2 separate regions of the Homo sapiens genome follow, and region 1 is linked to region 2. A link means that fine-mapping ties the variant in region 2 to the expression of a gene that starts in the linked region. Tissue or cell type: lymphoblastoid cells. Region 2 holds a variant in brackets; the other region holds the start of a gene. All regions are shown on one strand. Distances are between the middles of the regions.

What was found. PIP is the estimated chance that this variant, and not a neighbour inherited with it, causes the effect.
Region 1: it holds the start of SMC6, and the variant in region 2 is fine-mapped to the expression of SMC6 in lymphoblastoid cells (GTEx, PIP 0.99).

What each region holds. Positions count from the first base shown.
Region 1 is chr2:17,749,681-17,757,906 of GRCh38, forward strand. SMC6 (structural maintenance of chromosomes 6) reads right to left here and starts at 4,130. Exons shown (of 28, transcript NM_001142286.2): 1 at 3,946-4,130; 2 at 3,298-3,384. GEN1 (GEN1 Holliday junction 5' flap endonuclease) reads left to right here and starts at 4,458. Exons shown (of 14, transcript NM_001130009.3): 1 at 4,458-4,665. RefSeq lists silencers at 3,606-3,965, 4,106-4,245.
Region 2 is chr2:17,800,878-17,809,103 of GRCh38, forward strand. No RefSeq gene overlaps it. Among named protein-coding and RNA genes, the nearest start is that of MSGN1, 11 kb to the right of the region's middle. The variant T/A (reference allele first, on the strand shown) is at 3,698.

The DNA.
Region 1 (8,226 bases), 51 kb before region 2:
CCGTCTCAAAAAGAAAAAAAAAATTAATAACCAAGAGTTCATTATTGCATGTAGATGCATAGGAAATTTGATAGAGATCATGCATTTTAACAGAATTCTAAATTTTATTAAGTATATAATAATTCATATTTCCTATTAATACCAAATTAGGAACTAAGAGTAGTGACACACATAACAGAATTAGAATTTAATAAAAAAGTGTTATCATTTTTTTAAAAAGGCAAATTACTACTACTTCTGAATCTGCCCTGGCCTGTGTTTACCACATCCTCAATTCTACTCTGCCTATCACAACAGACATTTATTCTATGGTAAACAACTTCATTTTGAATGTGCTTAATTAAGTACACTGCTTGGAATATATCACGAAATTATATGAGACTTATTCATTAAGTCCACCCATCTAAAATTTCAGGATCAGCAAAACCGGGAAGTATAAAGCACAGCATTTCAGTTAATAAAATCTGAACACTTAGATTTCTGTACTGAAAACATCCTGTGGCTCAATATAGAAGATAGATGAAACAGAAAGTAAGAATAGTAGCAGAAGAGATGAGTTGCTAAACAAAAGCAGTGGTAATATCAGGGACAAAGGGAAGAGATAAAACAAGAGATTTAAAAGACTGAATTAGTAGAATTGGTGAGTACAAATGGGTGAGTAGAATTAACATCTGCTGAATAACTACATACTTAGCTTTTGAGATGAACACTTTCTATTTCCTTTGATCCCCAACATCTTTATGAGATAAATATTGCCCTTATTTTTACAAAAGGAGAGACTGAGGCACAAGTAAATGACTTGAATTTATGTAGCTACAACTTAGTTCTAACATACAAAGGCTTCTATAGCTCTAACATAGCAGAGCTCAGATCCAAATCCAGGTTTGTCAAAACCCAGTTAAACCTCTTTAACGCCCAGGTTCCTACTGGCATAAACTGAAGTTTGACAGTTAATTATTCATAGAGAGTGAAATTGGCTATTAATCTGTCCTTCATCTCGTCTATCCTTCATTAAACTTAAAAAAAAGATTCTATTATTGGCTGGGCGGGTGGCTCATGCCTGCAATCTCAGTACTTTGGAAGGCCAAGGCAGGCGGATCACCTGAGGTCAGGAGTTCGAGACCAGCCTGGCCAACATGGTGAAACCCCATCTCTACTAAAAATACAAAAAAAAATTAGCTGGGCTTGGTGGCGCATGCCTGTAATCCCAGCTACTCAGGAGGTTGAGGCAGGAGAATCACTTGAACCTGAGAGGCAGAGGTTGCAGTGAGCCGAAATCATGTCACTGCCCTCCAGCCTGGACAACAAGAGTGAACAGCTGTCTCAAAAAAAAAAAAAAAAAAAAAAAAGATTCTCTAATGTTACTATTAAAGTCAATCAAAACTTTGGGTGTGCTTTATAAAACTTCATTTTGTGTTTCATCTTCACACTTAATACTAAATGCCATTATAAGTTCATGGAACAGGTTTGGCAAGTAGGGAGAATGAAATTTATTTTATTTGAAAACACTGAGTTTGGGCTGGGCTCAGTAGCTCACGCCTTGTCATCCCAGCACTTTGGGAGGCCGAGATGGATGGATCACTTGAGGTAAGGCGCTCAAGACCAGCCAGCCCAACGTGGTGAAACCCCATCTCTACTAAAAATACAAAATTAGCCAAGTGTGGTGGTGCATGCCTGTAATCCCAGCTACTCCGGAGGCTGAGGCAGGAGAATCGCTTGAACCCGGGAGGCAGGATTGCACCACTGCACTCCAACCTCGGCGACAAGAGTAAAACTCTGTCTCAAACAAAAAAAAAAAAAAAAGAGGAAAAAAAAGAAAGAAAGAAAACACTGAGTTTCAAGTGCTCCTAAGGTATTTTGAGATAGAGGCCAGTCAGTAGTAAAGGATACTCTGCAATGGAGAAAGATTTGTGGGTGGAGCTAAGGAAGCTACTGGAAGTAGTTTGAATTTGGTGACCAAGAAAAGCATGCTCAGAGAGAAAAGATGTTAACTTGTTTAAATAGTGAATCAAAAATGCTAACATTAACCTAAGCAACTACGCTTGACCCTCAGTCAGCTGGACTTATCGTTGTGTATAAAGAACTATGGCATTTAATTGTGTCTTAAATATAATGCAAGCTATCACGGTAAAATTTTGAGTTACTTACTAATTCCTAAAAGTAAGCCAAGTACAGCTTTAATTATTTTTCCTAACTTTGGTCTAAAAATGACAGTCAAGATTTAGGTAGGTTTTACATAAAATTCTACAGATTCAGTAAAATACACTCAGTAAAATAAACCTTTGGGGAATAAAACTTGTTTTTCACTGTAATACCTTTAACATGACTTGTGTACTTTTTGCCAGGCTCAATACTAACTGGTTTATACGGATTGCAGACAGATGTCGATATATAACTACATAACTTTCTCTTCCTCTCTGTGTCCACATATTTAAGAATCCTGTCAGCTAGGTACAGTCAATCCCTAAGAATTGGTTCCAAAATGACAGCCCCTCTCTCTCACTCAGATACCAAAATCCACAGATGCTCAAGTCCCTTATATGAAATGGTGTCATATTTGCATATAACCTCCCCACATACTTAAAAGTTATCTCTAGATTACTTATATAACCTAACACAATGCAAATGCTATGTGAATAGTTGTTATACTGTACTGTTTAGGGAATAATGACAAGAACAAAAAAAAGTCTGTGCAACCATCCACTTTTTTTCCTCTGAAATATTTTCAGTCCCTTGATTGAGTCCACGGATACAGAGGATGCACTGATAACTGTATTATTTCTTCCAACTTGCATAAGAAGAACTGAAACTTAAAGAGGTGGTACCAACCTGCTCAGAGTCACACAATTCTGGCTTTTTGTGATATAAATACACGCTTTTAGGCAATATACTAGTGGCCTCCAAACGTTTTGTACTTGCACCCATTAAGCAAAAGAAATTTGAAATACATGTTCCAACATAAAATTAATACCCTATGTTTCACGTAGAAATCAAATGAAATAAATCTAAATAGAAGTTCTAATATGTTCCCTCTCTACCCACACACCCATGGAACAAACTGCATGCCACTGTATATACTATTGTACATGTTAAAAGATCACACTGCAACCATATAAAAGTCAGGAGATTTGGGTTTTTCTTTTTTCCTTTGAATATATATTACTGAGAAGTTTGCCTTTAAAACACTGGCTTTTAATCTACTACTCGTGACATATGCAGAGTAATAAGCGCTCACAAAACTTCTGTCTTGAGGGCTCAAACACCAAATGATTGCTCTAAGAATTTTCACAGTATTACCTCAAACCCTATTGGTTCTACAACCTTTCTCTACCCTAGAGTCCTGTTTTCCGCAATTCCCAATTGGGATTCTTCTCCGGTTCATTTCTGTAAGAAATGAGGGCAGAGAAATGCCATCAGTAAACCTTTGAACACATGTTAATTTTTCTAGGTAATACAATTTGCATTTTCGTAAAACTGGGCTTTAATGACAAATCCGATTTCAGTGATCTTTGCATACACCCTTTAAACACACCAGTTGCCGCCTGCGAGATATCATCAGACTCATGCTAAGAGCCACTCCCTACCCCAGCTTTCCCCAGACCTCTCCCCGCTTTACAGTTATTCGCCACAGCCCGGGAGAGTCTGGGGACGGCCGCCTGGGAGGGGACGGCCGCCTGGGAGGGGACGGCCCGGAGCAGACGCCAGGTTTCCCGCGGCTCAGGAGACCGGTGCCGCCTCGGAGAGCGCGCGAAGGTGCCGCCGGCCGCCCGACCCGCCCGAGGAACGGACATCTCCCGCCCGGGCCCGCAAGGACGACCATGAACACCGCCGCAGCTCAGCTGACCCTGCCTCTCCCGGGTGGCTGGGGGTCGCCAGCCAAGGGGGCAGCGGGCGGAGGATGAACCCCGGAGCAAGGGAAAGCGACAGCGCGCGCCTTCACCCTACCGCCAACAAGTCGAAGTCTCCCAAAGGAACCTGATCGGCGGGGCTGCCGTGGTACGACCGGCCGCTAAGGCCACCCTGCGGGCGTCTCGACCTCGGCTGACCGCCGCTGGCCCCCTGGGAACCGCGTGCCGGCCGCAGGAGAAGGTAGATTCCCGGGAGCCCCGGCGCCCACCGCGGTACTAACCGCGCCTGCGCCCCGCCCTCCCTCCCTTCGGGCTCCGCCCGCGCCTGCGCAGTTGCGGGGTTTCGCGCCGCCGGAGTCTGAGAGGCCGGAAGTGCCCCTTAGCGGGTGGGGGAAGCTGGTAGGCACGGGCGGCTCCGCAGTGACCGGACTCGGGGGAGGTGAGTGATTTGCCTAAGTAAAAGGGAAAGATAATTGAGCGCCCCCGGCAGCTGGTCTACGCATGCGTCCGCTAGGCCGGCTGGGAGCCGGCAAGGGAAAGCCGAGCGGGCCCCATTGGGGGAAAGGGGTCAGTCACTTCCCGGAAGAGGCGGGGCCGCGCGGGCCCGGCGCTGGATTCGAAACGCTTCCTGGTGCTCCTGGGCCTGGCGGTTGAGCCCGGGGAGCTAGTCTTTGCTTGGGTAAAGAAAGAGGACTTTCCTTTTTTTTTTTCCTTTTGAGAAAATTCAGAAATTTGGAGGCACAGTAGTTAGGATTCAGGCCAAACTGGTAAATGACGAAGGGGCTTCTTCCAGAGCCAAGGAGGAAGGGTTGTCCGGGTAAGTCCCGCGGGACGTGGAGAGACGGCGCCGCCCGGGTCCTCCCACTGATTCCTTTGACCATCTGGCTTACGGACGAGCTCTTTGTTCGCTGCTCCTCCGAAAACGCCTTCAATGACTCCCTTTGAATAAAGTAGGAAGTCCGAACCGAGCCGCCAGGCCGCGACTTGGCCCCTGTTTTCCACTCGCGAGGGCCCTGCGTCACCCCGCCTCGGGAAAGCTGCGCGTTCTCCGGCCGCTTGCGCTTGGCCGAAGCTGCTGGGTCCCGCTGTGCTTCCCCCGGGCATGCGATGGGGATAATTCCCACGCCTCGCTCAAAGCCATCCCGGGAGAGCCCTCCCTGGTCCCCATAGGCACAGTTGGGTGTTCCCTTTTCCGTGTTAACCTTGTATTTCGGATATAGTTCTGTTATAGTAATTACTTTAAGGTATTGTAGTTATTTACAATCAGTCTTTCCCCCACGGTAACCTAGAGTGTAAACCCCCTAAATAAACGTCAGAAGTAATGAAGTCTTAACTTCCTTGGCTTAGGTTTCAGCGCCCTTCTCAACCCCACACTCCCGCTTCAGTCTTTACACAACCCTTCCCATGAATATGCTGACCTAACAAGTAACCTACTTTTCATACTCCAAAATCTTCTCTTCTGTGTGGGGAAAATAATGCATTGACTGCCACCTCACTCCACCTCCAAATAAATTGATGTTGAAATTCTGGCCTCCGGTAATGGAATTCTTTACATCAAAGTCACTTTTTATTTCTAAAAGTAATCACATATATATTATATTCCTACTGTGGCCCTTGCCATGGATCAACGAAAAATATGACATAGTCAAAATAGACCAAAACATCTGGCCTTGTTGTAACCAATGGGAAACACGGTTGGGAGGTCCCTACTTACATGTCACTTGCTTCAGGAACCGTTCCTTGATTCCTAAGTGGGGGACCTTTTTTCCTAAATACAACTATAGCTTGCTTTCTTACCTCTTAAGCCCTTTTTATCTGCAGTCTCACTTACCCTACTAAGGTCTTTAAATGCAGGGCTTGATCTTCCATTATTGTATCTCCAGCACCTATAAAGCTTTCCTGTTAAATAGTAGACATTTAATAAGTATTTATTGATAAACGTGAAGTATGCCTCAACGTTTAGGCTAAATTCATATGAAAATAAAATTGAAAAAATAATTTTAAAGAACAGCATTAGTTACTGAGATTATGTGGTAAATCCCTTAAAATATAATCTTGCATTGAAATAGTTTTCACCATTTACCAGTCTTTATATGAATATATACTCATCTAAATGGAAATTGGGAAATTTAAGCATTTTCTGCTTTTCCGAAGTAAATTTTCTAATGTTTTTCTTAAAGCTGAACTAAATTGCAAAACTTGCTTTAATAAAGTGTGTATTTTTGCATCAGTTAAGCCCCTGACCTCTTTATGTTCTTTAAATTTGATTCATTAGTGAAATTAACAAGGTTCTGTGTTTTTCTCACCTCATTCAGTTTTATAATTAACCAATAAAAGCTTATTAGCTTTTAAGGAAGTTTTAGGAACTTAAATTGATTTATGGGCACCATATGGTTACATCAAAGGACTTGTTTTTGTTTTAACTGGAAGTGGATTCTTAAGTCCTTTAAGATGGAAATTTATGTTCTTTCTATTATACCAAGCAATACTTTCTGAAATAGAGTGATTTTTTTTTATTCCATGCTACCAGTTGGTCATGCAATTCAAATATTAAATACTAGATTACAGATATTAGAATCTTGTAATGCATCTGGTTTAATACCTGTCATTTTGTAGAACGGTTAAATGTCTTCCCAAGGTCATACACCTAATCAGTGGTATATTCAAAACCCAAATCCTAGGCTTCCTATCTGAAGTCCATTGCTTATGAAGTGGTTTGCTATGTGTTCTGACTTTGTTGATTCAAATAAGTAAGCTAAATCAATTTAAGCCATTAATAGGTTTATAAAGTTATTTGCTATGTGTTGTTCTTACATCATTGATTCATGTAAGTAGACTTGTGTGACAGCTAATTCTTAAAAAATTATGAAGATGTTAGACTTCTTTTGATATATATATGTTGATTGTATGAACAGATTGACATCAATATACTTATTCATTATAAAAGATTTGAGTGGGAACTCACCAAATCCCACACCAAAAAAATTTAAAATTTTACCATAGTAAAAAAAACTAAAAAGCAAGATGAAATTATACATAGTTCTTGGTGTAGTATTTTTAATTTTTATTATTTATTTTTATAGAAATGGGGTCTCACCATTTTGCCAGGCTGTTCTCAAACTCCTGGCCTCAGGTGATCCGCCTGCCTCGACCTCCCAAAGAGCCAGGATTATAGGCATGAGCTACCATGCCCGGCTAGTGTAGTATTTTTAAATTTTACTTAATGCTGAGCCATTTTCAAATAACCTCATCACATTGATTATGACCTCATGCAAGAACCATCTGTTCTATCTTTCAGTGTAGTTGTACTTTAATATCTTAGAAGCTATTGCATTCTGTCCTTTTTTGGAATGTTTTATGCTTTTACAGTCTTAACCATTGCTTCTTAATATCACTTCCGCGGAACAGCTGGTGCAAAGAACATGTGATAAGGAATGGAAAACAATTGATGATGGAAACAGAGATTTGGAGTTAATTGCGTTCTTAAAATATTATGATGTTCTTTCTAATAAAATGTACATTTCACATAATTTTCCTCTTTCAGAACTAACCATGGTTAATCATTCTTTAAACCAGGTTTGTTTCCGACAAAAGAAATGAAATAATAAAAACTAAATTCTAACTGTAGTAATCATGTGATATTAAAGATATTATTTATGGGGTTAAAAGCCCTCTTTATCTTGCTTAGGGGTTTCCAATAATCGAATCAGTGCTGGACTTTTTTTTTTTTTTTTTAGGCATGGCTGCCCCCTGTTAATAATATATTTAATTAACAGCTTTACACAATGATCTTAATATACTTGAAATACTTAGAGGACTGCAGTTTATAAAATCAAGAGTCTACCTTATTGCTGTTTTATTTTTTTTTTTACCATAACCCTCAGAAGGAATACAGTTAACATCACAGTCCTATATATAAATGTGTGTTTATGTGTGCCATCATAAACATCACTGCACTAGGTGGCAATCTTCACTACTATTCATTTGTGTATGTGTAGTCAACCTACGAAAGGAATCATTAGAAACAGGGTAGGAATGTTGAACCTTAGAACCGGAAGTTGCCAGAGAAAATATGTGCCCTGGCCAACTCCACAGGACTAGTTCTAGGCAATCTGAAGGAAACCAGAAAATGTGAATTTCTCTTCCCTCAAAAAGCTATACTGAAGTAGTATTTAATATTCAAGTACTTGTAAATTTGCAGAACAGTACTTTTTAATTTGACCCATGAATTCTATTTAAATTTGTCACTTAATATTTAGCCAAGAAGCAAACCATCTAAAAAGATTTCTGGTTTATTTCTCCAACTCCTAATAAATAGGGTCACATATTTTTTAACTTTTTTCTAATTTGAAAAGTAATACAGGCATATGGTATTTTA
Region 2 (8,226 bases):
AGAGGAAGGGACAGTTGAGTGAGGGACACAAGCCAGGCAAAGGCCAAGAAAAGAAAATGTGGTATATGGACAGTGTAGCATTATCCTGGAATCAGGCAGAGAATGGGCCTGGGGACCAGGAAGACATAAAGTTGGAAGAGTTGGGATAGGCCAGACCAGAAATAGTCTTAAATGGCAGGCAGAGAATTTATCAGGAGAGATTTTAGTAGTATGAAAAGTCAAGGAGTTATAAAAGTGTAACAATCACCTGGTCCTGCTCCCTGTATCTGTGGTTTTATCTCTGTTTAACAATCTAGACAAAGTGGCCAGCCCTGGGGGTGCTGTTGGCATCCTGCCACCCAGCTCAGTGCTCTTGTATCCTGGGAGGCCTTTGTTCTGTCCAAGTCATCAGTTCTTCACTAGAGACTATTAAAACTGCTGTTGCAAAATTATTACAGTGAAAGAGATCTGACCTAACCAACTCAACTCCATCTTGCTTCTAATCTCCAAGCTGTCCTTGTTCATTCCTGGACATAGGCCAAACTAACTTTGGGAGGAACTTAGTTTATAGTTTAACTTTGAAACAAAGACAATACTACTCCTTTCCTGAAACAAATCCCTTTCTTGACTGGGGACTAGACTGCCTTTGTAGGACCAAAAAGTTAGCCAAAAGATTCGAAATTATGGTTTAGGAGTCATGCAGCTGGAGGCTACAAGTTTCCGACCCTCCCCAAATTGGTCCCGAGAATAATATCGCTATTGTAAGACCTAAAATTAGTACTTGAGATATTTTGTAGACCCTGCACTTGATGGATCAGCTGGCACCACCCAGATTGATAAACTGGCTCATCTGATCTGTGGCCCCTACCCAGGAACTGACTGAGCGCAAGAGGACAGCTTCGACTCTCTCTGACTTCATCTCCCACCCAACCGATCAGTACTCCTGACTCACTGGCCCCTACCCACCAAATTATCCGTAACAACTCTGATCCCTGAATTCTGAGGAGACTGATTTGAGTGATAATAAAACTCTGGTCTCCCGCACTGCTGGTTCTGTGTGCATTACTCTTTCTCTATTGCAATTCCCCTGTCTTGATAAATGGGCTCTGTCTAGGCAGTGGGCAAGGTGAACCCTTGGGTGGTTACACTACCAGGCCCCAGCTCTGACTTTACCAAGTCAGAATCTCCAGGAGAGGAGCCTAGGAATCCTCTTTTTTTTTTTTTTGAGATGGAGTCTCGCTCTGTCTCCCAGGCTGGAGTGCAGTGGCAATATCTCGGCTCACTGCAACCTCCGCCTCTTGGGTTCAAGCAATTCTCTGCCTCAGCCTCCCGAGTAGCTGGGATTATAGGCACCCGCCACCCCACCTGGCTATTTTTTTTATTTTTAGTAGAAACGGGATTTCACCATCTTGCCTAGGGTGGTCTTGAACTCCTGACCTCGTGATCCACACGCCTCGGCCTCCCAAAGTGCTGGAATTACAGCCATGAGCCACTGCACCCGGCGGAACCGTCTTTTTAAAAATATGCTTTCCCTCTCCCCAGGTGATTCTTGATAGCAGGGAAGTGTGGGAATGCTGTGAATGTGAACTCTATGATTCCCTACAGCGAGAGGCTTATCCGTGGGCTTCATACCTGCTGGAGATGGAGGGTAACCACTCAGTCCACAAGGGGCTGAGCATAGTTCTTCAACTGCTCAGTAGCTACACTTCTGGGATGGAAAAGACTGGAACTTTTTTTCATGAAACAACATTTCCTCTCTTTCATCTTTCTTGTTGTCCTCCTCTGAGTCTCTTCTCCACTTCTTTCTACTCTTTGCAAATGAAACACGGAACTCCAACAAGGTCTCAGCAAACCTTATATCCTACCTGTCAATGTCCCAGTCATCTTTACAGGAGCACTTCCACCTGAAGCTCCTCCCTCCCTCCCTTCCTTCCTGCCTGCTTTTTTTTTTTTTTTAAATATTTAAATAAGTGTACTACCCATATGCTTTGATTCAACTTGAGAGCGCCTGTGATTCCTGAATCTTTTTCATTTGCACATGGACCTAATCAGGCCAGCCTTGACCATTCACTGGTTTTGAAATTCTAATTTTTAAATCAGTAATCTTTTTTAATTTAGAAAATACTGACAACTGTCAAGACGATAGCAACAATTGAGTACTGACAATGTCTGAGGGCAGTAGTATGACATTTCTTTATGTATATTGATCTTTACAACAATCTTGTAAAGTAGCTGTTGTTATTATCCCTTTATTTCAAGTAGAGGAACTGAGACATTAAGAAATGAAGTTACCTGCTTATAATCACTTAGTTAAGTAAGCAGAGAAGTCAAGGTTGGAGCCTAGGAACTCTGGCTCCTAACCACTAGAAGAAAGTAAGATGAATGAAGAAAAAAATACTCTCAATTCCTGTTACCAGAAGTAACCACTCTTAACACTTAGTCATATTTCTATGAGAAAGAATTTTCAATTGGATCAAAGTATTAATTTTATATGTCCTACTTAAAAGCCTTAATATTAAATTAAGCTTTGTATATTAAATGTTATTCATAATGATTTCTTTATCAACTATATAATATTTCATCATATGAATAGGAAATAATGTATGCAATTACCTCTTTGCTATTAGATATTTGTTTCTAATTTTTTACTGTAAGACTATGGCGAATATTTTTTATCCTAAATATTTGACTGTAACTTTGTTTAGTTGTATAAAGTCCTTGTGTCAAAAGTACTTTTGAATCTAAGATGAATTTTGGACTTTAAGTTACTTTAAAAATTGAACCAACTGACTCTCCCACAAGCAATGTGTGGGAAGGACCACTTCCTCATCCTCTTGCCAACTTTGCCAATTTGGGAGGTGAAAAACGGCCTTGCCTTGTCATTTCCATTTACATGTCTTTGATTACTACCGAGGTGAACATTTTCTTCTATGTTTATGAGCCACTTGTATTTCTTTTTCTGTGAGCTGTTTATTTATGCCCTTGTTCATTTTCCCAGTGGCAAGCTTGTATTTTTCTTATCTGTGTGAGTTCTTCATAGCAATAATGTTTTACCTGTCATGTTTGACTATCCCGTATCAAAAAACTGAAAAATATTTCCCCCAATTTCTTCTTTGCCTTATATCTGCTTTTTAGGTGTCAGTTAACTGGCAAGTATGGAAATCTGAATTGAAAACACTCAAAAGCAAAGGCTAAAGTTTGTGAAAATAAGCAGGTTCATTATGCAGACAACCATTTTTAGTATTCACTTTAATAACAGGACTTTTGTCATCACTGAAGAAAAATGAAGAAGTAATGTTGCACTTTTCTTCTTCTCAGGCTGGTAAGAACAGGGGAGAATCCTTGGAGAACAAACTCCGTGCAAATTGCTTTCAACTTTTTGACATGGGTATTAAAATGCCACCCCAAATACCAGTGGTAATAAAGAATCCAACTTAAAAGGGGGAGTAGGTGTAAATGTAACACATGAGATTTCATTTAAATCTTGCTGGCCAGTTGCTGAAGAATCCATGGAGAAGCACTCAAGGCTGCTACCCCTCCCGAGTTGGTGACAGAAAACTTGGCTATTTGGGGATAAATGTTGACATTCTGAGATTGCCGAATCAAGACAAGCTGCTCATATTTCCTTGCAATAAGAATAATCACAGCATCCTGCCCTGATGCTCTCCAGGGAGAATGAGCTTCTGTTCCTCTTTTTATTACCCTCTTCCTCTTCTCT[T/A]ATGTTTCTTCACCCACACTTTGCAGTCCCCTCTCTGCCACCCTCCTATCTTCTGCATAACTGCCCATTGTGGGTGGACATGGTGACTGCATTTTGTTCCCAAATTAACATATTTAGTAATATTTTCAAAAGAGAAAGAGGTTTATATTCAGGTGCCAGGGACCCCGCAGGGACATGGCTGCCCCCAAATGGATTCTTTTTAGAGTAAACCACGCTGCCTTGGCTTCTGTGCACATTCATTTGGCAAAGAAAATTCACAAGGCATTTGACTGTGGAGCGAGCTGATGAGACAGGGTCCTGAGCCCAGACAGTGGAAGTGCTTGAGAAAGGGAGCATCCCAGGTGTTTGGGAGGGAGAATGCTGCTTTTCCTCATGACCACCTAGTGAAGGGGATGAAGAAAAACAAAACTTCTGGTCAGGCTGGAGAAGTCCACAAGACTCTGTTCTAAAGGATTTCTACAGTTTAGAACTCTTCTGTTTCTCACTTCTCCTGTGAATTAAGTTTAATTATTTTGTTGCCGTTTATTTGTCTGTTGCTTTGTCCTGCCCAAGGGTTAAATACCCAGCCTGTGAAAATCATCTGTTCACACATTGCATGATGCTCTACAATTTATTATTAAATGGATCAAAACCAAAATGTTACTCTTTGGCTTTACAATGAGCCATAAAGTCAAATCACGAGGCCCAACTACTTTTATTATTTCCTTAGCATAATGGCAGTCACATGAAAGTCACAGTCCCAAGAGCCTCACACAGGCTTTGCTGAAACTGTCACAGGCTTGACAGCACAGCAGCTCCAGGCCGCTATCCATGCAGGAGAGCACCACTTTCAGTTCTCTTTGCTAACTCAAGGACACAGGAAAATGTCACATTTCACTTAGTTGTTTTCTTCACACATACACACACACCTATATTCCCTTTGCCCCACAAGAATTATCTATTTTCTGGTGAATGTTAGCTGAGTGCCAAGACTGTGTGGCAGTGTGAAAGGGCCCAGGTTTTTAACTTTTTTTTTTTTTTTTTTTTTTTTGAGACAGAGTCTCACTCTGTTGCCCAGGCAGAGTGCAGTGGCATGATCTCGGCTTACTGCATCCTCCGCCTCCCATGTTAAAGAGATTCTCCTGCCTCGGCCTCCCAAGTAGCTGAGATTACAGGCGCTGGCCACTACACCCTGGCTAATTTTTGCATTTTTAGTAGAGACGGAATTTCACCATCTTGGCCAGGCTGGTCTTGAGCTCCTGACCTTCAGTGGTCCACGCATCTCGGCCTCCCAAAGTGCTGGGATCACAGGCATGAGCCACCACTCCTGGCCCAACTTATGTCTAACTGTACACACACAGGCTCTGTCCCATGACTGGAAGGCCAGGGCTGGGCTGGCCAGTGGAGTTCTGTATGGCTGTGGCTATAAGAAGGTACTATGGAGTGTACAAAAGTCAGGGGAGTGTGTAGAGCTCAGGGTGGGCAGGAGCCCCCACAGCAAAATACAGCTACTGAAATCAGGGTGCACAGAGCCAGCAGGGTCTGAGTGTCTCAGAGACAAGCAGTGAGGGCAGGGATGGGCGAGAGTACTGCAGCTGGCTCTCGGTGTGGCAGCTGCAGAGCCGATGGGTGTGGCTATGGTTTGGAAAGAAGCTGTGTCCCATGACCTTGGGCAAGGTCCTTAGCATCTGAGCTTTGCTTCTTCCCTTGTAAGATGATGATAATGCCTACCTAACTGGACTGTATGGAGGATGACATGAGTGAATGTATGCAAGGCCCTTATTTTTAGCTCCTAGCATAGAGTACGTGCTGTAAGTACTCAAAAAATGGAAAGTGTATTACTGTTATCAATATTAATATACAAAAGGATTTTATTTTTAAAAGAATGTTCTATATAAAGTGTTTAATTCTAGGAAAATATAATTAAATATCACCTTTACCTGCTGCTTGATAATAATAATAATGTGGCCTAAGGCCAGGGAAAGCACTAGAAGTGGTAGGGAATGACAGCTGCCTTCTATTCTGGAACTGCAAACCCAAAGATGTAAAGCAACTACAAACCTCACAATGAGGGGTCCTTCCAAAATCCTCGTTCACCTATCTCCTCTCTCGGAACATAACATCACTCGCTGAAGTCTTGTGATCCTGGGGTCAGACTGCCTAGGTCTAAATTGTGCTCTTCCACTTACAAATCTGGTCACTTGGGGTAACTTTTTTTTTTTAACTTCTATAAGCCTCAGTTTTTTCTTATTTAAGGTGGGAACAGAAGGCTGGGTATGGTGGTTCACACCTGTAATCCCGACACTTTGGGAGGCTGAGGTGGGTGGATCACTTGAGCTCATCAGTTTGAGACCAGCCTGGGCAACATGGTGAAACCTCATCTCTACAAAAAAAAAAAAAAAAGAAAAAGAAAAAAAATTAGCTGGGCATGGGGTCACATGCCTGTAGTTTCAGCTACTTGGGAGGTTGAGGTGGGAGGATGGCTTGACCCCAGGAGGTGGAGGTTGCAGTGAGCCGAGATCGTGCCACTGCACTCCAACCTGGGCAATAGAACCAGACCTTGTCTCAAAAAGAAAAAAAAATGAATAAAGAAAAGGAAAAAAAAAGTAAGATAGGAAAAGAAATAATATTTTTATAAGATTTAAATGGAGCACTTAGTAGCACTTAGTAGTAGAGACATTTATTATTATTATTGCTATCATAGCTGAGATAACTGTGGGGATGGCCAAGGAAGGCGGTGCCTCTAAAGATTACACTATTTCTCAGAAACAGCTTCATACATACAGCTTCACTGGAGAACCAATAGAACACTCAAACACCTTCCCCCAACACACACGAGCACACACAAACACAAATACACACACGGCACTCCTTCAAAACTATAAGAGTCAGGCCTGTTCGCTAACCAGGGCAATAAGTAGTTATGTGGACGCCTGTCATGTCCAACCAACCATCTAATTTAGGAATGATGATAGAAGTCTAAACCTACTTAATCTTTTTAGTACCTATAGGACCCAGGACTCTGGCTAATCTCAGGTGCTCTGTACACACTGGATACATGACTGAATGGGGCCAAGGAATCAATCAATCAATCTTTTAGGATTTACCAAGTCTCAGGTCAAGCCTGAGTTCCAGCTTCAACAGCTTTGCAGGGCCCATCGTGCAGATGCCTCCAACTGGTGGGTAAAAGCCTAGGCTCCAGTCAGCCTGCCTAGGCTCTCATCCTGGGGCCTTGGGCAAGTTACTTAACTCCTCTGTGCCTCAATTTCTTATCAGTAAAACAGGATTGGTGATGATAATAGCACCTACCCCTTAGGGTTGTTGTGAGGATGAATGTGGGTTCATCTGTGCTAAGCACCTGGAATATTACTGGTGCACTCTGCCTCTAGTCGTGCTCCACGGGTGATGATTAATTTTATGTGCCAACTTGCCTGGGCCACAGGATGCCCAAGTAGCTGGTTCTACATTATTTCCAGGTGTGTTTGCAAGGGTATTTTCAGGAGAGATTAGCATGTGAACTGGTAGACTGTGTAAAGTAGATACTGTGGGTGGGCATCATCCCCTCAGGGCTTGAAAAGAACAAGAAGACTGAGGAAAGTTGAGTGGTCTCTCTGCCTGACTCCTTAAGCTGGGACATCAATCTCCTGTCCTCAGTGGTTTTCAGTGCTCCTAGTTCTCCGGCCTTCAGATCTTGACTGGAATCTACACCATCTGTTGCCTCTCTGGCTCTCAGGCCTTTGAACAATACCACAGACTTTCCTGGGTATACAGCTTGCAGACAGCAGACTGTGGGACTTCACCTCTATTCATCCATCCATCCATCCATCCATCCATCCATCCATCCATCCATCCTATTGGTTCTGTTTCCCTGTGAACCCTGGAGAACCAATAGAACACTCAAACACCTTCCCCACAAACAAGCAGAGTGAGGCTCCAGTGCACTGCTGACCAAATCTCACCCTTGCGAACTCCCACCAGAAGCTCCTTGTCATCTCCAAGATAAAGTCCAAGTGTCTTATCATTGCAGACGAGGCTCTGCTTTTCAGCTTTACCTCCAATGTCTGCTCTTTGCCTTCACTTGACCTTGTGGAACATGGAACAGCTCTCAATTTCTTGCACAAATCGTGCATGCTCTATCAAGCCTTCAAGTAATGCCTAGAATGTTCTCTCCACCTTTCACCTAGAAAAAAAAAAAGCCCTGCTTTTTAAGGAGCATCTTTAAGAACAAATAGGAGTGTTAATTTAAAAACAGGTCTATAACAACCTGTAATACCAACACTTTGGGAGGCTGAGGCAAGAGAATTGCTTGAGCCAAGGAGTTCAAGATCAGCCTGGGCAACATGGCAAAACTCCATCCCTACAAAAAATACAAAAGTTAGCCAGGCATGGTGGTGTGCACCTGTAGTCCCAGCTATAAGGAGGCTGAGGTGGGAAAATCACTTGAGCCCAGGAGGTTGAGGCTGCAGTGACTCGTGATCACGCCACTGCATGCCACTGCACTGCACTCTAGCCTGGGTGACAGAACGAGACTCTGTCTCAAAACAAACAAA